Homo sapiens: one gene and its partners. The protein of the gene in region 5 interacts with the protein of the main gene of each other region in a pairwise test. Each region holds a gene or a part of one and is shown on either strand. Other genes may lie near its edges. The genes, in order: ITGB1BP2, GABPB2, SCAMP2, CRLF3, FLNA, ZNF664-RFLNA and PHLDB2.

Region 1 (4,181 bases), about 83 Mb from region 5:
ACATGAAGCTGAGAGAAAAGAATTACAGGGGTAGTAACAAACCCAGAAGGTCAGAATAGGTCATTACGACAGATAACCAGGTCAGAGGTATGATCCACAGGTTGGCCAGACAGCCCTGACCTAATAACTCTCCTTTCCTCTAAGGGTACTATGGAGCCTACAGGTTAACAGCAAATGGCAACTCTGCCTGTGAGATTGTAGTATCACCCAATTGACTATCCTCCCATCCAACATCAGATCATTGCTCACCTCAGTTTGACTGGCCTTCACCCAGTTAAACGCAGGAAGTGGAATCTGGCCATATACAGTCACCACTACTAAGGAATCTGTCTGGTGCCAATCATGGCGGCAAGATGCTGGGAGCTAAAGAGAAGATGTGAAATGCAGGTGGTAAGAATAAATTCTTAACTGAAGGGGAGTTCTCATGATGCACGTGGAGAAGAGACAGAGAGTCTCAAAAAGATTAACACAACCTCATATTGCAAAACCTCTGGGCTGTTGAGGGATAAGGAGCAGAATCTTATTTGGTCTATACTAAAGGGAGAAGACAGGGAGCTTGGCTATGTGGTACAGAGAGGGAGGAGAATTTACCTCTGAGATTGGGTTCTAATCAAGAGTTCAGGAAAGCTGGGGCTTACCTGCTTCCCCCAGTCATGTCTACCGACTCTGCACCCTGGTTGTGCCAAGAATGCCCCAAAATCCAGGGTCTGGATGCCACAACAGCTCCAAGACTTCATCCTGAAGTAGGAAGATAATTCAACTGAATTCTCTCACCCCCAATATTATCTTATGACCAAATATTAGGAGAAACCTGTCTCATAGCCTCATAGCCCACCCAGTCCCCTCCCTCACCCCTCATGGAATCGGGGTGCTCCTGGGTGGTAGGTACATGGAGTAGCATCACTCTCAGGGCCTTGGTAAACCTAAGAAGGATAAAGTAGAACCAGGTCATTCTAAGGTATATCCTACTCAGCCTATCTATACCCAGTCATCCCTCAGCCATATGCTTGAGCCCCTCAAAACTCTCACTCACAGCATCACATCCTGGGTTCTGGCAGCTGGAACCAGTCCGGATCAGACTGTCAAGTCCTGGGCAAGGGAAACAGAGTCAGGAACTTATCCATCCCCCCACTCAATTGCCACTTCCACTAAATTCCAGTCTATGAAGTTGATCCTACTAAAGACCCACCTACCTGCCCCAGGTTCCTGGTCTAATTCCTTCTGTTCCAATGCCATTTCCAGGGCTTGGGATATATTTAGCGGCAGCAGCTTCAGAGGCAACTCTGACCTAGGGGTTAAGGGTGGTGATTTAGTTCTGACCCATTAGCTATGATTGCTAGCTCCAACACTCCCACCGATGGTAATGGAATTAAAGAAGCCTGGTGAAAGTGAGGCAGAGTTGGAGAGGTTGGGTAGCAACCCCATTGCCAATTTTCATCTCTGTGGACATCCCAAATACCTGAACCCTAGAGAAATCCCCAGCACTTCTCTTACCCATCTACTCAGTTGCTCTAAACCTAACCACTTTTCTCTGCAGAACTGAGTCATATCCTCTTCCTCTTTATCTAATCGTGGACCTAATATGACTTCCTTCTGTTGCTCTTATTATTCCCACAAAATTTGGGAAGTCTCCTGGCTGCCAATAATACAATACATCCTTTTCTTGATATGAGATTTATCTTAAAGTTCTTTTCTAGAAAGAGAAGTCATTCTCAACAATCCCTTTTGTGTTATACACTAAGGATGTATTTGTGAGGGGCTATCTACTCTGTTGATTCAGGTATCTATCCCATCATCCCACACCACCTTAGAGGAAAGGGCGTTATTTCCAGACACAAATTTCCCCTAAGGCACAGGATATACACCATCCAAACCCTGACATCTGGCCCTCCTCACATCCCTGGTCCCTAGTTCCCAGTCCTCAATGACCCATTAATCACTCCTAGGAAGCTACATGAAAATAAGAAAAGTCCAGGGGCCTCCTCCTCTTTACTTGGGCCTCTCCCGGCGCAAGGTCTCTGCTGACTTTGGAATCACATTCAGAGGTTTTTGCTCCTGAAGTGAACTGCTTGTAGCAGGGCCTTCAGGTTGAGGGGCCTCAGGAAGCTTCTCAGCACAGTGTGGTCCCATAGTACAGCCCTAGTATAGATAAGGAGATAGGATTAGGGATAGAATCCTTCTATTGGGGGCAGAATCCAAGTACATAAATAATTTACCTTGATGTTTAAGAACTCAGAGAAATCTACAGTTCGCTTTCGGCAGCAGGACCAACCCTGATAACAAGAGACCCAGATCAGCTTAGCTTCCTGGGTATTATCTCTTCTGGGAAATGCTCTTGCTAACCCCCCTCACCTACTCCTCACCTTAAGTGCATCATGGAAGATTGGGACCCCAGGGTGATGGCAACAGGAATCTGTGGACATCAGTAGAAGTTATCAAGGAAGGGAAGATAACTATACCAAGTATCATTTTTCACCTCTTCCCCGGGTTTCTATTTATGGTTTCTTCCCATATAATGTGAAGAAAAAAAAAAAAGCCAGCAAAGGCTGTAAGATCACTCAGACCAATTAAACTAGGGCAGGTAGTTTCTTTCCCCGCTCCTCAAACACACTGCCCCCCAGCTGACCAGTCCCCAACACCCACACAGAGCCCCTGGCCAGGTCAGGATTCTTTACTCACCAGGAAGGTTGGTATTAGGGTCAAAGTGCTGCCCACAGCCTTTGTTACGACAGAGTAGAGACATGGAAGCGTTGGTTGAATGATTACTGAAAGGGTATTTCAAGGAGTCTGGCTGCCGAATGGGGAACACCTCTTAGTCTGGAGGCTTTTAGCTGCCTGGAAGGGCCAGCTGTTTCTATCTTTAGTTCAGGAGGCGTACACCTCCTAACATGGGCAAGGGAACTTCAATTCGTCTTTCCAGCCAATAGGAAAGAGCTCGGGGGCATTTTAGCTCTGAGGCTCAGGAAAAAAGGATCAGGCAGAGTAGGGCTTTGAACTTGGGTGAGGTCAGCTCACCACTACTGAGACAGTTTTAGATTCACCACAGCAATTCCAAGCCTTGGACACAGCAGCAGCTGCTAAGAAACAAATACCAATTTTGAGACCCCCCCCGCGCCCCCAGCTCGATGAGGATTAAGCCCATTTTCTTCCTCTTTCAGAGGGGCAGCTTTCCTCCATCATTACTTCCATGTAGTATCAATAGCGCTAATCCTTGCCAACCCCTCCAGCCATTTGATGCACCTCATCCCCACCTCCTCCCCATGTTTGTCTAGATCAATACTGTAATCCAAAGGTCATAAAGGATTACCTTTATAGAGTCTACTGCTCATCTCCTAAGATAACTCCCCTCCCTCCTTTCCCCTTCAAAAACACCACAGAAAATTAAAAGGCTTAAAATGTATTTTAATAGGTTGATGCTGCATTACTGCTCCATTTTTCAGAAAAACTCCAAATATATGAGACAAATCAAACACAGTACACCAATGAAAAAAAAAATGCACAGCATGACTACCTAAGATAGGCGAGTCTAAGAGCTACTGTCAGACCTTCAGTATACAGTAACCCTGTTCCCAAGATTGTACTAGGCCTATCAAGAAAAGCTGTGAACAGCAACATCATAGACACAAAAGGGTCATTCCTGGGTGTCCTCACCCAAGAAAAAGATGGAGGCAAGTTAACACAAGATTTTTTTTTAAAGATACACTAAAATGAAAATCTCTAAGAGAAAATGTCTTCTTTAGGACATGAAGGGGTAATATATGGGGTATAACAGAACCGTATGTACGCTGCCTGTGACCTTTGTGGACGTTTGCCTGAATTCTCACCTGGGAGTGAATGGAGCAATGGGGCTAAGGTCATTGGGGGATGTTTGGTTTTTGTGGTGTATGTGGCAGTTTCTCTGGGGCTGGGGGAGTGTAAGGATAAGAAGCAAGTGAGGTTGGGCACGGTGGCTCACCCCTGTAATCCCAGCATTTTGGGAGGCCGAGGTGGGTAGATCACGAGGTCAGGAGTTCAAGATCAACCTGGACAAGCTTGAACCCGGGAGGCAGAGATTGCAGTGAGCCGAGATCATGCCACTACACTCCAGCCTGGGCGACAGAGTAAGACTCCGTCTCGGGGGCGGGGCAAGCAAATGAAACAAGATGGACAAAAAAAAAAAAAACCGGAATGATCAAGATTAA
Region 2 (3,282 bases), on a different chromosome or scaffold from region 5:
GGCTGAGAGCGGTGGATAAGGAAAAGGCAATGGCCATGCATGGGTTAGTAGATCTATACCCCTCCCCCTTCAGTTAGCTCAGTTGGACAGGGAAAATGAGCTCTGTGGTTCACCTGTCATTAGAGAATAGATACAAATTTGGCCGGGCTCGGTGGCTCACGCCTGTAATCCCAGCACTTTGGGAGGCCGAGGCGGGCGGATCACGAGGTCAGGAGATCGAGACCATCCCGGCTAAAACGGTGAAACCCCGTCTCTACTAAAAATACAAAAAAATTAGCCGGACGTAGTGGCGGGCGCCTGTAGTCCCAGCTACTTGGGAGGCTGACGCAGGAGAATGGCGTGAACCCGGGAGGCGGAGCTTGCAGTGAGCCGAGATCCCGCCACTGCACTCCAGCCTGGGCGACAGAGCGAGACTCCGTCTCAAAAAAAAAAAAAAAAAAGAGAATAGATACAAATTTTGCCCAGGAGATGAAAACAAATTCAATGACACCCTGAAATGGTCGGCTTTGACATTTTATTGAGAAACATTTTTATTTTAAATGATAGTACAAAAACTGTATATATAATATAGATCTGTATAAGTATATATACATACAAATGCTCATACACACATATACACACAAACTTGCTCATCAGAATAAAACCCTAAATAAAGAAGTATATTTAAGTTTTTCTAAAAATACGCTGTACATAAAGCTGTCAGACAACCTGAAAAACTGAGGACATTGTGAGAACAGTCTGGGCGCATCCCCCCACACACACACCTGCCGCAGTACACACACAAATGGCCTTGACAGAAGGACAGCACATGGGGCAAGGTCAGGGAGAGAGCTGCTACCATCATTGTTGCTAGAACAAGATGTCTAAAGCCAACTAGAAAGCACAGGATATAGAAGGTGACCTAGATTAACTTTCAGAAACAAACCACCTCAGAATAAACAAAAAATATGTGGTAGGGAAGGAGGGGAACGGAGAGAGAAAAGACAAGGCCCAGAGATTAGAAATGACCTACTAACTAAATTCGAATGCCTGGGAAAGCCTCAATGAGATAGGAACAATGGAATCACAAAAGCAGAAAAGGTAGGAGGAGGGGGAGATAGGGAATCACAATTTCCTGTCACTAACATGCCAAACTGCTACTGTAGAGTCTAGGAATGTCACCTCACCCCCTAATACTAAAGAGGCTAAAAAATAAGACAAAAATTTAAAAAGGGCAGCATCAGAGACTTAAAAAAAATTGGCATAGGAAATAATAGTACTACTCAGAAGGGGTAGTACTTCTGAGATATAGTCACCACATAAAATAGAGACAGATAAGAGCCTAGAGTGCATACAGGTGGTCATCACATATAGTCCATTCTGAAGTTCCTTTTCTAGCTATCCAGAGATGGGTTTGCACAAGGAGTAGAGAAGAGGAAGCCTTCTCTAATAAATTAGGACAAAAACTGATTCCCACTCCATATTAAACTTTCAGGAAGAGTTCAGTAAATGCATCAAATTTTCCAGCTCTGGAGGTCTGTAATGATAGGAGAGAGCCACACAAGCTTTCTTAAAATGGTCATCATCATACTGGTGAGAAAAAAAAAAAAAAAAAGAGGCTGGGCGTGGTGGCTCACACCTGTAATCCCAGCACTTTGGGAGGCCAAGGAGGGTGGATCACGAGGTCAGGAGTTCGAGACCAGCCTGGCCAATATGGTGAAATCCCGTCTGTACTAAAAATACAAAAATTAGCGCGTGCCTGTAATCCCAGCTACTTCAGAGGCTGAGGCAGAAGAATCGCTTGAACCCGGGAGACAGAGGTTGCAATGAGCCAAGATCATGCCACTGCGCTCCAGCCTGGGTGACAGAGAGAGACTCTGTTTAAAAAAAAAAAAAGAAAAGAAAAAAGAAAAAAAAATCATTTCTCAAACTGATATTTCTTTTTTTCCTTTTTCTTTCTTTTTTTTTTTTTTGTGAGCCACCGCGCCCGGCCTCTTTTTTTTTTTTTTTTTTCTCACCAGTATGATGATGCGCCACCACCCCCGGCTAATTTTTGTATTTTTAGTAGAGACTGAGTTTCACCACGCTGGCCTGGCCTCAAGTGATCCTCCCATCTCGGCCTCCCAAAGTGCTGGGATTACAGGCGTGAGCCACCATGTCTGGCCAGCAGCTTTACTTATTTTATTTTATTTTATTTTATTTTATTTTTTGAGACCGAGTCTCATTCTGTTGCCCAGGCGATCTGTTGCAGTGGGGCGATCTCAGCTCACTGCAAGCTCTGCCTCCTGGGTTCACGTCATTCTCCTGCCTCAGCCTCCCGAGTAGCTGGGACTACAGGCACCCACCACCACGCCCGGCTAATTTTTTGTATTTTTAGTAGGGCCAGGGTTTCACTGTGTTAGCCAGGATGGTCTCAATCTCCTGACCTCGTGATCCACCTGCCTTGGCCTCCCAAAGTGCTGAGGTTACAGGCGTGAGCCACTGTGCCCGGCCAGCAGCTTTATTTTAAAGTAGACAACCATCCTAAGCTCGAAGTTTCTCTTGCTCAAGCACCAATTCTGATCCATTTGTCTGTTTTTTCTTTCTTTCCTTCTTTTTTTTTTTTTTTTGAGACAGAGTCTCGCTCTATTGCCCAGGCTGGAGTGCAGTGGCACAATCTCAGCTCACTGTAAACTCCACCTTTTGGGTTCAAGCAATTCTCCTGTTTCAGCCTCCAGAGTAGCTGGGACTACAGGCGTATGCCATCATGCCCAACTAATTTTTGTATTTTGGTAGAGACAGGGTTTTGCCATGTCGGCCAGGCTGGTCTCGAACTCCTCACCTCAAGTGATCTACCCACCTCAGCCTCTCAAAGTGCTGGGATTACAGGCGTGAGCCACCGTGCCCAGCCATTTTTGTCTGCTATTTGATTCTTAATAATCCAACCTTGCCAATAAACAGTTGGAATCCTCTAACCCAGAAGATCTAAGCAATATTTCCCCAACTTCCATGACTAATCCAGAAAGATATGCAAAGTCATGAAATGGTATTGCCATTAATGTATTCAATATTTAATTTCTAACTACTTCAAAGCATCCTCACCTGCCATTCTCTCCATGGCAATACAATTGGAGATCAAATCCTATTTCCCTTATCTGGGATGCCAAGAGGACCGTTCCGAGTAAATAAAAATCAATGCCTTTTTCTTACTTATTTTCAGATACCTCCATTCTCTCCCTCTCTACCCTAGCCTCTCCTCTAACAAACTGCCCTATCTCAGAGACCCATCATAAAAAATGACTTGGCCTGTATTAGAGATTTTGG
Region 3 (3,500 bases), on a different chromosome or scaffold from region 5:
TGAACCTGGGAGGCGGAGGTTGCAGTGAGCCGAGACTGCGCCATTGCACTCCAGCCTGGGTAACAGACTGAGATTCTGTCTCAAAAAAACAAAACAGGCTGGGCACGGTGGTTCACACTCGTAATCCCAGCACTTTGGGAGGCCGAGACAGGTGGATCACTTGAGGTCACAAGTTCAAGACCAGCCTGGCCAACATGGGGAAACCCCATCGCTACTAAAAATACAAAAATTAGCCAGGTGTGATTGTGTGTGCCTGTAAGCCCAGCTACTCCGGAGGCTGAGGCAGGAGAATCATTTGAACCCAGGAGGAGGAGGTTGCAGTGAGCCGAGATCGCATCATTGCACTCCAGCCTGGGTGACAGAGCGAGACTCCCTCTCAAAACAAAAACAATAGAACTTGAGGATACGTGGTAACAAAGAACAATGAGAAAAAAACAAAACCTGTACATCTGACTGGAAGAAAAAAATATTTGGGAAACAGGGGACACCAGACAAAACTCTCTCACGAGCTGAGGACTTCCATCTCTGTGTCCTTGAGGGCTAGATCACAGTGAGGGTTCAGGGCCTCCAGTGGTACAGGGATGGTTCAGCCACTACCCTAATCCCTCTTCCCAGGGCCTGCTGGGCTCCCAGCCCTGAAAGCATAAACCCTGAGGTACAATTCCAGAACCCCTGGGGGTCTGTAAGGTGTATCCAGCTATGTTCCCAGTATCTAGCTTAGGTGTTGGCAGTCTTTATTGGGAAGCATCAATAGTCATGGAGAAAGAGCCCTGGAGAGCACTCATCTGATACTACCAGAGAAGCACACCTTAGAGCCTCAGAAGGGAGTTCCCAAAGAGCGTCCCCTCCCTCTTCCCAGTAACGGCATCAGCCAGACTGGGAGCAGTGGGATGGGAGGTCCCTTCTCTAGGTCTCCTGTGCCTGGTCCAAGGACAGGGCCCAGAGCAGACCTCAGGTACAGAAACTGAGGAACGGGGCCCCCAATCTCTGCTCTGGGTGGGAACAGAGGAACAGAATGTAGGGAAAGTGGATTTCCCTACATTCTATTCTGCTCTAAGACTCAGATGGGGTCCCAGGGCCTATAGCCCTTAGCCTGCTACCTGGGATGCCAGCCATAAAGTCTCACCCCTTGCCCCGGCCTCACTCACCTAAAGGCCTTATAGATGGGTCGGTACCAACAAAGGAAGGCACAGGGAGTGAAGATCAGAAACCACAGGATGGAGAGGCCAAAGTCCACTCCCTTGGAGCTGTTGCCCGAGAACCAGGCCAGGCAGGCAAGCAGGTTCAGAAACAGAGTCACTGAATGCACTGGGGAAGGGGACAGGACAGAGTTATGACTTGTGCCACAGTGGCTGAGGGGCTCCAATGTGGCAGCCACTCCCTAGGAGAGGTGAGGTTCATGCTGCGAAGGCAGCTGCTGAAACAGAGGAGCCCGCTCTGTACCTAGGCAGGGATAGTTCCCATATCCTGGTTTTCTGGGACCTCAAAACCAGGGATCAAACTACGTTCCTGAGAGGTGATGGGACAGCCCGGGTATCTGAGGGGTGTGGAGGGAGGATGCAGACCCAGGGCTGGTCCTTGGGGAAGGAAGTCTTTCTCTTAGCAATGCTTTTCCCTGGCCCTGGATGGCCCCTGATGGAGCTGCAGGGGGAGTCTCCTTCCTCACCCCTCAGAGTTCACAGGCCTGTGGGCAGGGAAGGCCTTCACCTAAGGAGGGCCTTTTAGTGCAGTGAGCTCTGAAGGAACTTGGAAGCCTCTAGTTAGTCCCACCCTCCCTGATCGGTGGTCTGGACTGCCCCTTTCAAGGAGGTTTCCAGACAGGGGGCAGCCTGTGGGCAGAGGCATCTCCCCAACCCAGCCCAGGCACTGAGGAAGGCTGGAGTCTGCTGAAAGCCTGTATACCAGGGAGGAGCAGCCAGGACCAAGATGGGGCTCTCAAGTCACACCCAATTCGCCCTTGCGCTTGGAAGGCAGGAGTGGGACTCACACATCCACAGATAGTAGAGCATCTTGCATATCCGCTGGTAGTCGGCAGGGATCTCTGTGGAGAAATCCTGATAGAAGCAGGGCTTCACAGGGCACCACGAGGGCAGAGGGGGCCAGTTGTTCTGTCTCACTGGGTAGGGCAAAAAGAGTGACGAGGTAAGGGCCCAGCCTCAGAAGGGGCATCAAGGTGCATGCACGCCAGCATAGTGTATGGGCCAAACCAGGGTTCCCAGAGGGGCTCCAGCAAGCGGGGCTTGGAGTCTGCATGGAGCATGGAGTGGGACAGAACAGGATAATGGAACCCAAAGAGATACCAACAAGCTCACATGGAGATAAAAGACCCCAAATGCACTGGGAAATACAGACAGCTAAATGGCCTAAGTGATTATTTTTATTAACAAGCAGCCCATAAGTGTGAGAACTCAGTTCATCATCATTAGCAAGGAATTGTGGGACCAAAGCCCCTATGCTATCAAAGAATCAAGGAATTTGAGAGCTAGGAAGGAGTGCAGAAGTAATCTACAGCCATTACAACTACACTGCAGGTCTCCTGACTTGCAACTTACTGCTCTTCCCAGGACCAGCATCCTGTGATGAGAAGAGCCCCACAAAACTCTAAGGCAGCTCAGGGTGAATGCTGGGAGGCCCTCCGCACAGGTTTCAGGACACTCTTCTATGCCAGGCAGGGCAGCCCCAGGCCCCAGCAGCCTCCCTTACCATGCAAGTTGGCTACAGTGTTCTGCAGCTCCCGCTCCTTGCGTTCCAGCTCGGCAGCTTTCCTGTCCAGTTCTTCCTGCTGCCGGAGCAGGCCTGCCTGGGCTGCAGACACCACGGCCTGGAGAGAACAGGGGAGGTACAGGGACAGCCAGACACAACAAACAGAAACAGTGTCAGCCTGGGTAGGCAGGCAGAGAGGCCTTGCCCCAGGCAGGGACAGCCATCAAGGAGTCCCAGAAGCAGTCCCCGCCCCACAGAGTGTCTTAGGTACCAGAGACCACCTTAGAGAGGCCAACCTGTCTTCCACTGCCCCCACACCTTCCTGACCCCTTGGCCATGACTAAGCTGTCCTCTCCCCTCATCCCTAAGCTTGAGTTGGGAAAACTACCCCCATTGGCTTCTCCACCTCTTCCCCATACTGGGTCAAGGCAGCGCTCAGTGATTGTGACCTTTGGGAAAAAGACCTCACAAGAAACTAAACTATAATAAGAAACCCACAGACCCAAGCCTCATTTGAAGAGCCTGGTGGATGTGTGAGAAGGAAAACAGTGCAAGCCTGCTAACAGTGAGTGGAAAGGGGAGACACGTGAAGGCAGATGGCGTGTGCCTGAGCCTCAGGATCTGTACAAGCACCCTGCCCCATGGCCTGCCCCCAGGAGCTGCCTCCTGAGGTCCCCCTAAACTGCAATTGGCTACACCCCAGGACAGCCCCTTAGGTGTGGCCCTGCCCTGCCTGGCTTTAGTGGCATGCAGAGTCCACACTTATCTCCTCTCCAGGCGGGGTAGAGCCTCTGAGT
Region 4 (3,500 bases), on a different chromosome or scaffold from region 5:
TAATAAGGGCCTGAGAACAAAAGGAACTTGGGTCAAGCATTCACAATAAAATCCCATCTCAAGACTTAAAACTTAGAGGAGAGCTTGTTACACTAAGGTGAGTATGGTGAAAATCAGGCAAACTTTACTTCTCTAAGTCAAAACTGGTCTTTAGTTTCTACGAAGAGCTATTCAGAAACATGACTATAAAGAATACATCTCAGATAACATGAAAACAAGAAAAAAGAAACTTTTCCATTACAGAAAGAAATGGGTAGAGAAACAACATTAATTAGTGGTAGGGGAGGCTTGCTTTCAGTTTTACTTTAGAGAGTAGCATATACATAATATGTTTACAGTGTTGTCTCTTACAAAGACTTGCTGTTAATGATTCACAAAGGACAAAACAAATTCTTGGCCAGTAAATTTTTTTGCTTTTTTTTTTTTTTTTTTTTTTTTTTTCCAGACGGAATCTTGCACTGTCTCCCAGGCTGGAGTGCAGTGGCACGATCTCTGCTCACTGCAACCTCCGCCTCCAGGCTTCCAGTGATTCTCCTGCTTCAGCCTCCCGAGTAGCTGGGACTACAGGCGCACCTCACCACACCCAGCTAATTTTTAGTATTTTTAGTAGAGACGAGGTTTCACTATGTTGGCCAGGATGGTCTCGATCTCCTGACCTCGTGATCTGCCCACCTCGGCCTCCCAAAGTGCTGGGATAATATGCATGAGCCACAGTGCCCGGCCTATGCTTTTTTTCTTTTTTTTGAGACGGAGTCTCGCTCAGTCACCCAGGCTGGAGTACAGTGGCGCGATCTCAGCTCACTGTAACCTCTGCCTCCCAGGCTCAAGCAATTCTCATGCCTCAGCCTCCTGAGTGGCTGGGATTATAGGTGTGTGCCACCACACCCTGCTAATTTTTTTTTTCTTTTTGAGACGGGTCTTGCCCTGTTGCCAGGCTGAAGTGCAATGGCTCACTGCAACATTTGCCTCCCGGGTTCAAGTGATTCTCCTGCCTCACTCTCCCTAGTTGCTGGGATTACAGGTGTGCACTACCACATCCAGCTAATTTTTGTATTTTTAGTAAAGATGGGGTTTCACCATGTTGGCCAGGGTGGTGTCTTGATCTCCTAACCTTGTGATCCACCCACCTCAGCCTCCCGAAGTGCTGGGATTACAGGCGGGAGCCATTGCGCCTGTCCTAATATTTGTATTTTTAGTAAAGATGGGGTTTTACCAGGTTGACCAGGCTGGTCTCGAACTCCTGACCACAAGTGATCCAACCGCCTCGGCCTCCCAAAGTGCTGGGATTACAAGTGTGAGCCACTGCGTCCAGTCTCTTGGCCTCTAAAATTTTTTTTTTTTTTGAAACGGAGTCTTGCTGTGTCGCCCAGGCTGGAGTGCAGTGGCGTGATCTCGGCTCACTGCAAGCTCCGCCTCCCGGGTTCACGCCATTCTCCTGCCTCAGCCTCCCGAGTAGCTGGGACCACAGACACCCACCACCATGTCCGGCTAATTTTTTTATTTATAGTAGAGATGGGGTTTCACCATGTTAGCCAGGATGTTCTCAATCTCCTGACCTCGTGATCCGCCCGCCTCAGCCTCCCAAAGTGCTGGGATTACAAGTGTGAGCCACCGTGCCTGGCCAGGCCTCTAAATTTTTAAGATTTACTTTTTAATTTTGTGTGTGTGTTTGAGACACAGTTTCGCTCTTGTTGCCCAGGCTGGAGTGCAATGGCATGATCTCAGCTCACTGCAACCTCTGCCTCTTGGGTTCAAGCAATTCTCCTGCCTCAGCCTCCCAAGTAGCTGGGATTGCAGGCATATGTGCCACCATGCCCGGCTGATTTTGTATTTTTAGTAGAGATGGGGTTTCTCCATGTTGCTCAGGTTGGTCTCGAACTCCCGACCTCAGGTGATCCACCTGCCTCGGCCTACCAAAGTGCTGGGGTTACAGGTGTGAACCACTATGCCCAGCCTAAGATTGACTTTTGAGAGATACTCTACTTACCTCTACTTACCAAGAGGAAAAGAGATATAAACATATTAAATAACAAGCATTTTATATACATTTCCCAGTTAATCTACGTAATAACCCTGTGAATACAGATGAGAAAACTACAGCTACAGGAAATAAAGAAGCCTTCCCACAGTAACACTGCCTATAAATGACGGAATAAACTCAGGATGTTTTGAATTCAAAGCTTATGTATGCTCTATGCACTTCACTCTGCTTCCTGAGGCAGGTGAGATGTTTTAATATCTACTTGCCTGAATGTTAATGTCTGCCCACAGAAATAAGTCGGAGCTCTGGAGTAGAGAACACCCGATGATTCAGAATCGTTCCGAAGTGCTATATTTCTTCGACTGCTCAGACTGTACCCCTCAAAACCAGCTGTCCACTCTTTTTCAAAGCAAAGATATTGAAAACTGTTAGAATCTCTTGAGGGATATCTTCAATACAGACACGTTAAATAAAACATGGAAATGGGAGACTACTCTTAGGGGCCATGGTCAAGTTCAATAAAATAAAAGATTCCATTAACAGGGTATCATGATCAGTCCCACAAATTACAAAAGATTTTAGTATATTCCTGCATAATTTTGACATAATAAATCACACAAGTGTTATCTCTTATCTAATAAAATCATTGTACAAGCATAATTGCTTGAACTTATTCCAACCTGATAAAAATCTAATTAATAGGCCAGGCGCGGTGGCTCACGCCTGTAATCCCAGCACTTTGGGAGGCCGAGGCAAGAGGATTGCTTGAGCCCAGGAATTTGAGACCAGCCTGGGCAACATAGCAAGACCCAGTCTCTAGAAAAAAATAAAAAATTAGCCAGGTGTGGTGTGCATGCAGGTGGTCCCAGCTACTTGGGAGACTGAGGCAGAAGGATCTAGAGGTCAGGCTGCATGATTGCACCACCACACACCAGCCTGGGCGACAGAGTGAGACCTTGTCTCAAAAAAACTAACTAAATAACATTCAAATATAAAAAAAAGAATAAAAAGGAATATCAGTGCCCTACATAATATTTTCAATCTTTGGTTTTCAATGAGGCTAAAAATCTTGTCCAGCATTTTTTTTGGACTCTGAAGAACTGATGAAAACAAAAATCACATGAGGTAATCTGAGTAAAAGACATGGTGCATGTTGTTCTTATCAATTCAGGATCTATGCTTAGAATAGCTGGTTGTCAGTGTGCTGCCCTTAGCACAGAATACAGGTATTCTAATATATAGTTAGGCTTCAGGAGAGAAAAGGTTAGCAGCATACCATGAGGCACCAATGTGGAATGACCTATCTGGGGGACACTCCAAGGACTCCACTCCTGTCGGCCATCTCCTCGGGCGCAGACTCTGAACTGGTAATCAACGTTGGGGTCTATGTGCAATACTATGAATTCAGTTTCAGAACCTACATATACATCCTCAAAATGATTTGAAGTACATTTACGAAACTGGAGCCTGTAATCTTGGGCTGTAAAGTCATCATCCACCTAGGGAGAAAAGCTTTATG
Region 5 (3,953 bases):
CATCCCCGTCCGCCGGCCCGGCAGCGGCGGGAAGGGGCCAACCCTAAGAGCGAACCCCTGGAGAGCGGCAGCCCCGGACCAGGCACTGCCGAGGGCGCTTTGTGTGCTCATCACCTGGGAAGCGGCTGCAGGGCAAGGCCTGCGCCTACGCGGTCCCCGCAGACCCCCTGCCACGGGCCCGCCTTCCCAGTCCGTAGGGCCCTCGCCCGCGCACCTGTGCCCGCTGCTTCCCACCGCCTCCCTCTCTGCTTCCCTCCACCCGGGAGGATATGGGGCACTGGGCCAGGAGGCCGCCGGCACTCCAGGAGCAAGCAGCCTTCGAAGGGGTCCGGGCATGCCCACGGGCACGCCAGTGGGCGCGGGCAGAGGGCGCCGTGCGATGCATGCAGAGACGTGTGCCCGCCTAACCCTTCATGCCAGTTCACCCGGGGCACTGGGGGGAGCTGAAGCGGGGGGTCCTCTCCTGTCGGAAAGTCCCCTCAGCCCAGCGTGGCCAGGGCAGGGGGCAAACACGGGAGTGGCATTCCAGACCCAGAGGGGCCTGCTCAGAGGTTCCCATAAGACTTGTCAGGCTCTGAGCACCTGGGTCTGGGTGGGCTTCAGGTGTGGTGGCAGGTGCAGAGGAGGCCTGAGGACAGGGATCAGGGGCCTGGGGGGTTGTGTCCCCAGAGCTGTGGGGGCTCTTCACTCAAAATTTTCTGGTAGATAACTCTGGAGATGGTGCAGTGGCTGCTGTGCCGAGATGTAGACTGGGACCAGGGGACGGCTGGGGACGCTCACTGCTACTATCTTCAGTCAGAAGCCAGCCTGCCTATGGCTTCCTCCCCATTGTGCACTCCCCTCCCTCTCAGTCCTCGGTACCTCCCCTCTCCAGAATGTTTCCTCCTCTGAGTGTTTTTTTTTTTTTTCTAGGAAGGCAGGTATCTGTCCCTCCTGTTCAATTCTAGTAATAATTAATTTATCTGCTAAAGACCAGTGAGAGATGGAGGCCCTGGGTTGGCCAGCACGTCATGCCCAAATATGGTTGACTCTCCTGTAGCCCTGGGTGTCTACATGACACGTGGTGGGGCTGTGATCCGCCCAGCACATTCACTTCGGGGCAGCCTGTGGCCCCACTGGTTTTTCCCACTAGTAGTGGTGTTAGGGGGTGCAAATGGCATTTTCCAGTACTGAGGCCAACCCCTGTATATTGTCCCCTCTCCTGACCACTTTGAGACACACCTGCACCAAGTGCGCCTGGGCGTCTGGGAGCTGGGGTGGAGGTGGGAGGGAGGGCTGGGAAGGGGGAACCCATACAGACCCCTCCCTGCACGGGCCCCATTCAAGACGGGCTTGAAGTTGTCCTTCTGGTCCCCCTGCCCCACTGGAAAGCAAGTTCCCAGGCACGGAATTCCATCAATAATTGACTCTCTCTCCACTAAGGGCCATTGAGCTGGGTTGTCTGGGTTCATTCCTTAATCTTCAGAGCTCAGGGAAACTGAGTCAGAGTGACCAGTGGTCAATTCCAGCAGAAAGAGTGTCAGGAGGTGGGTGCCGTGTCTTCCAGCCCTAGCTTTTCCCTATTTAGAGGAAACAAGGAATGGGCGTGTAGAGGGTTCTTGTCCCTAGAACATAGTATCAACCGCCAGATGTCGCCCGATCCCAAAGCCACCAGATCGGGCAGTCCTGGGAAGCCAAAATCCAGCTCTTTCATATTTTCCCTTATTTGGAGTAGATTCTTGGATGTTAGGCACACCCCGCCCACCACACCACCCCTGGCCCTCAGACCCCAGGCCAGACCCTCCCACTGGGAGGTATAGCCCAAGCCCAGGAGCTGTTCAGCTGGGATCCCTAAGGAGCTGTTTCCAGGCCTGCGTAGCCAGGGGGCGCAGGAGGGAAGGAAGCCGCAGACTGGCAAGGTGAGAAGAGACCTGTGCTGGCAAGTCCAGGTGCGGCAGGTGAGGTCGCCCATTCCCAAGCTCCCACCTTGACGGTGCACTCGGAGCACTTACAAATGGGTCTGCCAGTGGATTTTAACCTATTTTGCCTGGCCCCAGGTGGCACGGGAATCTGGGGACATTGTTGGTTATATCCTGGCTGGCAGTGCGCATCCAACTCAGAGCCAACCTGGCATAGGGCCCAGGGCCCAACCAAGGAACCTGGCCTGGTCTCATCCTCACCATGGCCCCCATGGAGTAGAGCAGCCCCAGAACCAGCTCCCCTGTGCCCAAAGCAGCTGGTGCCCTGTGGACTCGAGCCAGCAAGGGACACGCTGTCCCCCTCCCAGTGGGCACACTGGCTGAGAAGTGTCCTTCCAGGTGGCCACTCGCCCTGAGTCCACACAAGTTCCTGGTGTCAGGGCCCTTCTCTCTCAGGCATGCAGTGGTCCGTTCATGGGCAAGTGCCCAGACACCCTCTCTCTCTCGGGGACCCCCCATGGCCTCAGGCTCCCACATTCGTGGGCACAGACATGGCTCGTGGGTCAACTAGGGAAGCTATTCTCTGGACACTCACTCCCAGATGCCAGGGGAGCCTCCATCGGCTCACGCATCCCAGCTGAACCTGGCCCGGACCTGGGCGCGAGCTGGCGCCTGCGTTTTCCGGCCTCTCTGCCCGCCTTCTCCAACCCCGCCCCCGGCCGACGAGGAGCGCGGCGACCCTACGGCGCGAAGCCGGGCCGCGGAGACCTCACCTGCTGTTCCTGAGAGCGACCGGTGACCGATGACCGCGGGGTGGCGCCCGGATCGCCTTCGCGCCCGCGCCCGCGCCAGGCGCCTCGGGGATTCTGTCGGCGTCCGCTGCGCGCGACGCGCCTCCACGCGAATGGGCCGCCGCCGCCCGCCTTCTTGTTGGCCGCACCCCCGCCCCGCGCCCGCCCCGCGCCCGGCCCGGCCCGGCGAGAAAGCCTTAATTGGTAAAATTGCCCAGGAGCCCGGGACGGGTGCGTGGGGGGCGGGGGTGCGGGGGCACGCCGTGAGCTCCAGCGACCCGCCGCCGGGCGACGCCGCCCCCCGAGATGAGCTCACCGCCGGCGAGGGCCGCCAGGCCCTGGGGGAGGGAGGGCTTCGTGGGGGAGTCGCCTCCAGCGCCCACAGGGACTGCAGGGCTCGTGTCTAGGCCCAATCACAAGGATCCTGCGTGTCTGAGTCTGGGGGAGCCAAGCGCACCCCAGGTGGAAAGGCCGAGGCCCAAGGCCACCTTCTCCAAGGAGCCACCCACAGTCACAGCCCCTGGTGTCTGTCCCAAGCCGGGATTGTTTCCTGGGGTGGGGGCAACAGGTCGTTGCAGGTGTTGGCTGGGCGCCTACGTCAGGCAGGGCCCCGGGACGGGACTGCAGGGCTCCGAGCCCTGGGATGAACCTGACTGCCATGGATCAGGCGCTGCCAGGTCTGGCCTGGGGTGGGCAGCAGAAACAGGATCGCTCAGGGGGACGAGAAAGTTAAGTTTGTTTAGTATTAAGAAGATTCTGATCTTAAAGAAAACATTGGCCGGGCATGGTGGCTCATGCCTATAATCCTAGCACTGTGGGAAGCTGAGGCAGGTGGATTAATTGAGCCCGGGAGTTTGAGACCAACCTGGGCAACACAGCAAGACACTATCTCTACCAAAAATATAAAAATTAGCTGGGCGTGGTGACGTGCACCGGTAGTCTCAGCTGCTCAGGAGACAGATGGGAGGATCGTTTAAGCCCGGGAGTTTGAGGCTGCAGTGAGCTATAATTTCACCACTACACTCCAGCCTGGGTCACACAGTGAAACCCTGTCACTAAACATAAAAAAAAAGGCCAGGTGCGGTGGTTCATGCCTGTAATCCCAGCACTTTGGGAGGCCGAAGTGGGTGGATCACGAGGTCAGGAGTTCAAGAACAGCCTGGCCAAGATGGTGAAACCCCGTCTCTACTAAAAATATAAAAACTAGCCGGGCGCAGTGGCAGGCGCCTGTAATCCCAGCTACTCGGGAGGCTGAGGCGGGAAA
Region 6 (3,500 bases), on a different chromosome or scaffold from region 5:
CCACCTTGTGACTCTCCCACATGGATTAGCTGTAGCACAACTTGCTTGCTTTCTTTTTTTATTTTTTTGAGACAGGGTCTCGCTCTGTCACCCAGGCTGGAGTACAGTGGCGTGATCATGGCTCACTACAGCCCTGCCTTCCAGTGATGCTCCCACCTCAGCCTCTTAAGTAGCTGGAACCACAGGTGTGTGCCACCATGCCTGGCTAATTTTTGTATTTTTGGTAGAGACGGGGTTTTGCCATGTTGCCCAGGCTGGTCTCAAACTCCCAGCCTCAAGCCATCTGCCTGCCTTGGCCCCTCAAAGTGCTGGGATTACAGGCATGAGCCACCATGCCCAGTAGACACAACTTTCAACCTGGGCTGAAAGACTTCAATTTGCTAAATCTAAGATTCACTCCTGATCCCTTTATTACATCTCTAGGCCGTTTGAAACTACTGCTCCTGTCCATTCTTGAAACTTTCTAACTTCCAGGACGTCTCTCCTGAGTGTCCTCGTCTGCACTCCCTTCTAGCCAGTCCACCAGGCTCACACTAAATGAATCTGCTCCTGTAAGCGCTGCAACAGTAAAACCGATACGGTGAGCGTGGAACCCAAGCTAAGCCAATCAGATTGTCCTTCTAGAGAATTTGGAATTGGGAAGTGGGAAGTGGAAAGACTGGGTCTGTGATGTGAGCTGGCAGAAGTTAGAGTTTCAGAATGGCCTTCCAGAGTGACCACCTGGGGTCACGTGTTATTTACTGCCAAGCGAGAGAAGAGATTAGGGGGAGGGCAGGCACACATAGAAGCATAGGGCAGACACACAGTGAGCAGGAGAAGCCTGGGAGATGAAGGCAAAGAGCACAGCCACACTGACTGCCACCAACTTCCCAGCGACTGGGCCCCAACCTCTGATGAAGACATCTACCTTCCTCTCTAATGACTTCTGTTACCTTGGCAGGCACTTTCTCCGCTACCTTTTCTCCACTTGTCCTTCAAGGTACCCATGCTCCAGCCATACTATTAACAGCCAGGTGGGCACTCACACATGGATGAAAGGGCACCACTCTGCCTATTTCCTGGCCTGCCCCTACGTGGAAGGGACCAGTTTACCAAGATGAAGAGAAATCACTCCCAGAAGTCAGGTGTACTCTGACAACAGGATGACTGACAAAAGGACCACTAATGCCCAGAGGAACCTCCACCACCCACTCAGAGAGGCAAGAGTCTACCCAATGAACCCCAAAGACAATCATGGTATTATCTGAAGTCGAGGTCATGCAGTCTCAAATAATTCTATGTGAAAAATATCAATGGTCCAGTCTATCTAGACAGATATGCCCCAATTTACAGAAGTACAACTATATTGCAAGAAAAATTTACCATGTAGAAATATTGATTTTAATACCATAGCTATGTATAGTATCTAGTCATTCTTACAGCAAAACATGTGTACTGTAAAATTATTCTTTGTAAATCCTCTTCGTGACACACCTATGTGTCCTATAAGACCTTCAAACTCAAGTACATCCAAAACTGAATCAGTCACTTCCTCACCAAAGCCTACTATATTCCTGTCTTAATCTGTTTTCTATTGCTTACAAGAGAATACCTGAAACTGGATAATTTATGAAGAAATTTATCTCTTACAGTTATGGAGGCTGAAAAAGCCCAGGACCACATCTGGTGACAGCTCTCCTGCTGGTGGGGACTCTCCAAAGAGCCCTGAGCCGGCACAGGGCATCACACGATGAGAGGGGGCTGAGCATGTTAACATGCTGTCTCAGATCTCTTTTCTTTTTATAAAGCCCCCAGGTCCCCTCCCATGACAACCCATTAATCTATGAATGGCTCTGCCCTCATGAGCCAAACCTCTGAAAGGCCCCACCTCTCAACACTGTCACATTGGGGATTAAGTTTCAACATGAGTTTTGGAGGGGACAAATATTCAAACCATAGCCAATTCCCAACTATAGTAAATGAGTCCACTCTCCCCTCAATTGCCCAAGTCAATATCATTGACTTCCCCCCATCACAAAGGTCTAGCCACTCTCTTCCAAATACCTCTGGAAACTCTCCACTGTGTACCTGCATTGTCTCAACTTAACTCAAGCCACCATCATCTTCCCTGGAATTCTACAAAAGCCTCCAGTCTTGCTTCCCTCTAATCCATTATCTACTCTAATGTAACCTTCTAAAATGCAAAATGGATTGTTCTTACCCTACTCACAAGTTTTCAATGGGTCCCAATCATTTTCAGTGTAAATTCCAAATTTATTCATTGGCTTTAACCAAAAAAAAAAGTGCTCATGTCTATTTGCCATGTAGCTATCATGTCCCAGATATACTTTGTTAAATCAAATGTTCCATCATACATGTAATACAGGTACATGTAATCTTGGCAAATACAAAAAAGATTATTTAAATCACCCGACATCCTACCGAATTCCACAATTCTTAAGATTTCCATCTAATTTCTTCTACATATTTTTGCCATTCATAGGTTTTACTGGAAGGCTGCTGGGACTTTTTTTGGGGCGTTTTCATCATATCAGGTATACAATTGTGTATCCTGATTTCCTTCCACTTAACACTATCATAAGCATTTTAATATATTTTCTTCATAAACGTTTTTAATGGCAATGTTATTTGCCACTAAATATATGATATAGGGGATGTATCATAACCATTCTGCAAACTGTGCCCATAAATATAATTCTACAATATACATATTTTGTGCAGAAAGCTTTTCTCTGTATTTAAAAATATTCTTTTGATGGTTCCTAGACCATCAAGAAATGTAAATAATTTTAAGACTCTTGACACATATGGCCAATGTAACATAAGAGTGTGTCATTTTTACCACATCCTTTTAGGTACTAGGCACTGTATATTTTTGTCTAAATCTAGACCTTCATGAAATTGGTGAGAAATTGTAACATCTTCCTTACAAAAGTAAATGCCCATTGTAAAAAAAACTGAAGCAATGCAAACACATGTGATATGAAAAACCAGTCTCCCCTAGGCTTTTCCCATGAAGTAATCAGAATTAAATGTTTTCAGGTATTCTAGTCTTTTTCTAATTCTTATTCAGAATATATATATATACACACACTCACCCTTCATTATTTTGTTTTGTATCTTACAAAAAATGAGATTAAGCTTGCTTTTTTGGCTCAACAGTATATTCTAGACATCCATACAGGCTATGTCAGTACATACAAATCTACCTCTCTATATAAAAAACTAATAGGCTAGACATGGTGGCTCATGCCTGTAATCCCAACACTTTGGGAGGCCAAGGCGGGAGGATCACTTGAGGCCAGGAGTTCAAGACTGGCCTGGGTAACGTGGTGAGACTCCGTCTCTACAAAAAAAATTTAAAAATCAGCCAGGTGTAGTGGTGTGTGTGTGTGTGTGTGGTCCCAGCTACTTGAGAGGCTGAGGCAGATCACTTGAGCCCAGGAGGCTGAGGCTACACTGAACCACATTCCGTACCACTGCACTCCAGCCTAGGCAAC
Region 7 (3,500 bases), on a different chromosome or scaffold from region 5:
GGCCAAGTTTCACTGGGGTTTTGGTTTGCATACAACTGACAGTTATCTCCATTGGTGGCAGCCATGACTAGGAATCTGGTTTCACGATCTGACCACGTGGTGAGTTGACAGGTAGAATCGGAATCCAGTCTTGGTCAGGTGAGAGGTGACAGAGTATTTGTTTGTTGTTGTTGTTGTTTATAATTTGTTTTTCTATTTGTGTACTCAGATCAGGAATATATTTTGTGCCTGATGGAAAAGCAATCAGTCTTTTGAGATCTGGAAAAGTGAGATTTTGTGTTCTAGTGTTCACTTTTGATCTGTAATTGGAGCTGTAGGACTTAAGCCATAAACCTTTCATCTGTCTTTCTACCTGGGGGCAGGGTGGGGAACACTGTTTGTAGGTGAAGTATTTTTCTAACTCCCGAGGATAATAATAAATTAAACAGAGAAGGCCTACTGTTCTGATTGGTTTATAGAGATTATCAAGTAGTTAGATAAATTTAACATTCCCAGAATTTCAAGAATTTATTTTCTTGAAATAAATTTTGTGAAATTCCAATGCTTTAAATGTGCTTATTTTAATGATGGGGTCTCACTCTGCCACCTGGGCTGGAGTTCAGTGGCATGATCATGGCTCATTGCAGCCTCAATCTCCTGAGCTCAATCAATACTGCCACCTCAGCCTCCCAAGTAGCTGGGACTACAGGTGTGCACCACCACACCCAGCTAATTTTTGTATTTTTTGTAGAGACAGGGTTTTGCCATGTTGCCCGGGCTGGTCTCAAATTCCTGGACTCAAGTGATCCTCCCACCTTGGCCTCCCAAAGTGCTGGGATTACAAGTGTAAGCCACCTCACCCAGCCTAACTGTGCTCTCTTAAAAAAAAAAAGACCTGATTTGATAATTTGGTTTTAAAAACAGCTATAGGGACACATGTTGTCAGGATCTCCTGGGGCTGTGTCATGGGTAAATACAACTTTTAAGAAAAAAATACATTTTAAAAACAACAACAAAACAGCTACACATCTTTTCCTTGTTTCATCAGTGTACAGTATAATACAAGTATAATCTCATTTTTTAAAAAAACTTGAATGTTTTATGATGAAGAGATTAGTTTACCTGAACTTTTAAACTGTCTTATATTAGTTTGCTAAAAACATAAGCTAAGATTACTTCTATAAAATTAAGAAAAATATAAACTTTGTGCTCATCTAAACTGAACTATAACTGTGACAAACCTTTTCACATTATCAGTAATTATGTTCTGTGATGTGTTAGCTTGAACATAATTTCTGATACCTTTAAGTATTTTTGTCTTAGTGTCTGGTTGTTCCAGAATGTGGAAGAGAACAATGAAGGGCAGAAGTTGATGGAAACAGAAAATTGCAGATTTGCAAAAAGGGAGTTAGATTTAACTTGGTTTATAATGCTTGCAAATAAAAAGGCTATAAAGAAGTAATAAAATTTTAAAAATTTGGCAAAGTTTGCATGATTTTGATGCAATTATTCATAAAGTATGTTTAATGTAATGCATTAAAAATGTAATATATGACAAGCACCCTGTTAATGTAAAACTAAAATGCAGTTATCTCTATTGAAATGACAGACTGATCTTGGAGAAATCAGCCTATGCTTGTAAAAGGCAGTACTAATCTGCCCACAGAACAGAGATTAGTACCTTACAAGTGTAACTTCCTGAGCTTTGCGATGATTGGAATATATTCTTGCAAAGAGTTTTCTTCATTTTTGAATGATTTGAGCTTTCTTGCTCATCATAAAATAATCTATTGCCATTTTCTTAAATAGCCAAACCACAAACATTCACTACTCTCAGGTATACACAATTCTTTATTACTCAAGTGACAAAATCTCTGATTTTGCCTTCAAGATCAGGCAGACCCTAAATACAGAAAAAAAATATAATTTCCAAGATATCTATTCCTGAACTACTTTTAGGTTTTCCCAGAGAACCTCTGGGCAATCACAAAGATTTGTCTTTAATTTTACAAAAAGAAAGAGGCTAGAAATAATTAGGTTTGTTCACTGTGCCCCTAAAAATTTCTCAAATCAAATGAGAAAGTTGCCCTTCCTTAAGATAATTTTGTACGGGTAAAATAATATTTTTAATATTATAGGTAATGTTCAAAGATTGGGTACTTTACACAAAGACCCTGAATATATGTCAGTGCCCTCACTCTCTGTAATATGTTCTTAAAAAACTGATTTAAAGGATTTTAACTCTCCTTCATGCTGATATTGTTTGTTAAATTAACCATAAATAACCATAGCCACTTAACTCTTACATTCACCAAGTGTTCTCTACTTTCTCTGTGAGCTTGTCTACAAAATACAATATCTCATTAATGAAGAAAAGACAGTTTTAGAACCTTGTGGACAGAACTTTACCAGGTATTCTTAACCCTAAATATTTCAAAGAATTGCATAGACAAAAATGAGATAGTACTAGGCAGCCACATCAGATTTTCAGGACTTTTTAGTCTAGAAATAGATGACTTCATGAAACCAAATTAAGAGCCTAAGATACAGAGGAATAAGAATTAATTACATAGAAGTGATTGAATTGATAATAAAAAATGAATTTCTAAATGTGGATATATGTTTTGGAATATTACTAGTATTATTTTTAATGTTTTATTTTTTCAGGGGGAAAACCCTTTGGCATTCATACTGCTCTATCTCTAATCCTCTATTCAGCTAACTCTGATTTTGCAAACTAAATGAAATATTATTTTAATGGTAAATTGTTCTCACTGATCTCTCAGAATTCAGGAAGTAATTTGAGTCACTTTACTTTTTAATGGCAATATCATCTTTTGCATAGGCTTGATAAGAATCCGTCATCCCTTTTACCACAATGTAGTCAAACAAATAGACCATGCAACCAAGATCAAGTCTAGAGTGTCAAATTTAAAAATAAGCCTCATTTCAACAAATACGATACGCCCACTATTAAAGAAAAAATATATAACTTCATATTTAGAGCAATATCCACAAAGCTCTCCCAAGAAGTCAAAACTGTTTATGACTTAACAGGCCCAACCTTACAGGCAGTACAGAAGGTCACTTCCTGGATTGCCAAGAACCATACCAGATTTGGAAAATCTGGAGGAAAGAGAAATTCACCAACACTTAGAGATGCTGAACATGAAACCTAGCAGAGATGAATTTCTTGAATTTGGTTCCCTATCCTTGGAACAGAAGAGCAAATAGAAGCATTTAAGGAAGATGTCCGGAGTAATGGAAGCCATTAAAAATGCTCTCCCAGATTTCTTGATAAGTTATCGGATAGAAGTTAATATTCTGGCTTTATAAATAATAGTTGCTCTGCATGGTATAGCATTCTATTTGCTGTCCATATACAAGACTTTTGTATGCTAATTAAAACATCTTCTGAATTTCTGTCAATGAAGCAAGCCCAAACACAATGCCATTTTGTGACCATGAACAGTCTGCAGAGATTATTTATGGTAATAAAGAGGAAAGTCATACTGAGTACT

The links.
Region 1: the proteins of FLNA (region 5) and ITGB1BP2 interact in binary tests that used the Homo sapiens proteins (3 or more experiments, as listed by UniProt).
Region 2: the proteins of FLNA (region 5) and GABPB2 interact in binary tests that used the Homo sapiens proteins (3 or more experiments, as listed by UniProt).
Region 3: the proteins of FLNA (region 5) and SCAMP2 interact in binary tests that used the Homo sapiens proteins (3 or more experiments, as listed by UniProt).
Region 4: the proteins of FLNA (region 5) and CRLF3 interact in binary tests that used the Homo sapiens proteins (3 or more experiments, as listed by UniProt).
Region 6: the proteins of FLNA (region 5) and ZNF664-RFLNA interact in binary tests that used the Homo sapiens proteins (3 or more experiments, as listed by UniProt).
Region 7: the proteins of FLNA (region 5) and PHLDB2 interact in binary tests that used the Homo sapiens proteins (3 or more experiments, as listed by UniProt).

Annotation. Positions count from the first base shown.
Region 1 is NC_000023.11:71,300,369-71,304,549, reverse strand, and holds the start of ITGB1BP2 (integrin beta-1-binding protein 2), read right to left. Parts: upstream 2,801-4,181; 5' UTR 2,744-2,800; coding exon 2,680-2,743; intron 2,414-2,679; coding exon 2,364-2,413; intron 2,274-2,363; coding exon 2,217-2,273; intron 2,140-2,216; coding exon 1,994-2,139; intron 1,289-1,993; coding exon 1,194-1,288; intron 1,090-1,193; coding exon 1,034-1,089; intron 924-1,033; coding exon 853-923; intron 739-852; coding exon 639-738; intron 364-638; coding exon 250-363; intron 9-249; coding exon 1-8. UniProt on the Homo sapiens protein: May play a role during maturation and/or organization of muscles cells.
Region 2 is NC_000001.11:151,122,761-151,126,042, reverse strand, and holds the end of GABPB2 (GA-binding protein subunit beta-2), read right to left. Parts: 3' UTR 1,857-3,282; coding exon of another isoform or gene 1,728-1,856; 3' UTR 501-1,727; downstream 1-500. UniProt on the Homo sapiens protein: May function as transcription factor capable of interacting with purine rich repeats (GA repeats).
Region 3 is NC_000015.10:74,849,366-74,852,865, forward strand, and holds part of SCAMP2 (secretory carrier-associated membrane protein 2), read right to left. Parts: intron 2,822-3,500; coding exon 2,704-2,821; intron 2,117-2,703; coding exon 1,988-2,116; intron 1,309-1,987; coding exon 1,149-1,308; intron 1-1,148. UniProt on the Homo sapiens protein: Functions in post-Golgi recycling pathways. Acts as a recycling carrier to the cell surface.
Region 4 is NC_000017.11:30,790,193-30,793,692, forward strand, and holds part of CRLF3 (cytokine receptor-like factor 3), read right to left. Parts: intron 3,481-3,500; coding exon 3,258-3,480; intron 2,639-3,257; exon of another isoform or gene 2,381-2,638; coding exon 2,248-2,380; exon of another isoform or gene 446-2,247; intron 1-445. UniProt on the Homo sapiens protein: May play a role in the negative regulation of cell cycle progression.
Region 5 is NC_000023.11:154,371,835-154,375,787, forward strand, and holds the start of FLNA (filamin-A), read right to left. Parts: upstream 2,801-3,953; 5' UTR 2,672-2,800; intron 1-2,671. UniProt on the Homo sapiens protein: Promotes orthogonal branching of actin filaments and links actin filaments to membrane glycoproteins. Anchors various transmembrane proteins to the actin cytoskeleton and serves as a scaffold for a wide range of cytoplasmic signaling proteins.
Region 6 is NC_000012.12:123,979,715-123,983,214, reverse strand, and holds part of ZNF664-RFLNA (refilin-A), read right to left. Parts: intron 1-3,500. UniProt on the Homo sapiens protein: Involved in the regulation of the perinuclear actin network and nuclear shape through interaction with filamins. Plays an essential role in actin cytoskeleton formation in developing cartilaginous cells.
Region 7 is NC_000003.12:111,886,765-111,890,264, reverse strand, and holds part of PHLDB2 (pleckstrin homology-like domain family B member 2), read right to left. Parts: intron 1-3,500. UniProt on the Homo sapiens protein: Seems to be involved in the assembly of the postsynaptic apparatus. May play a role in acetyl-choline receptor (AChR) aggregation in the postsynaptic membrane.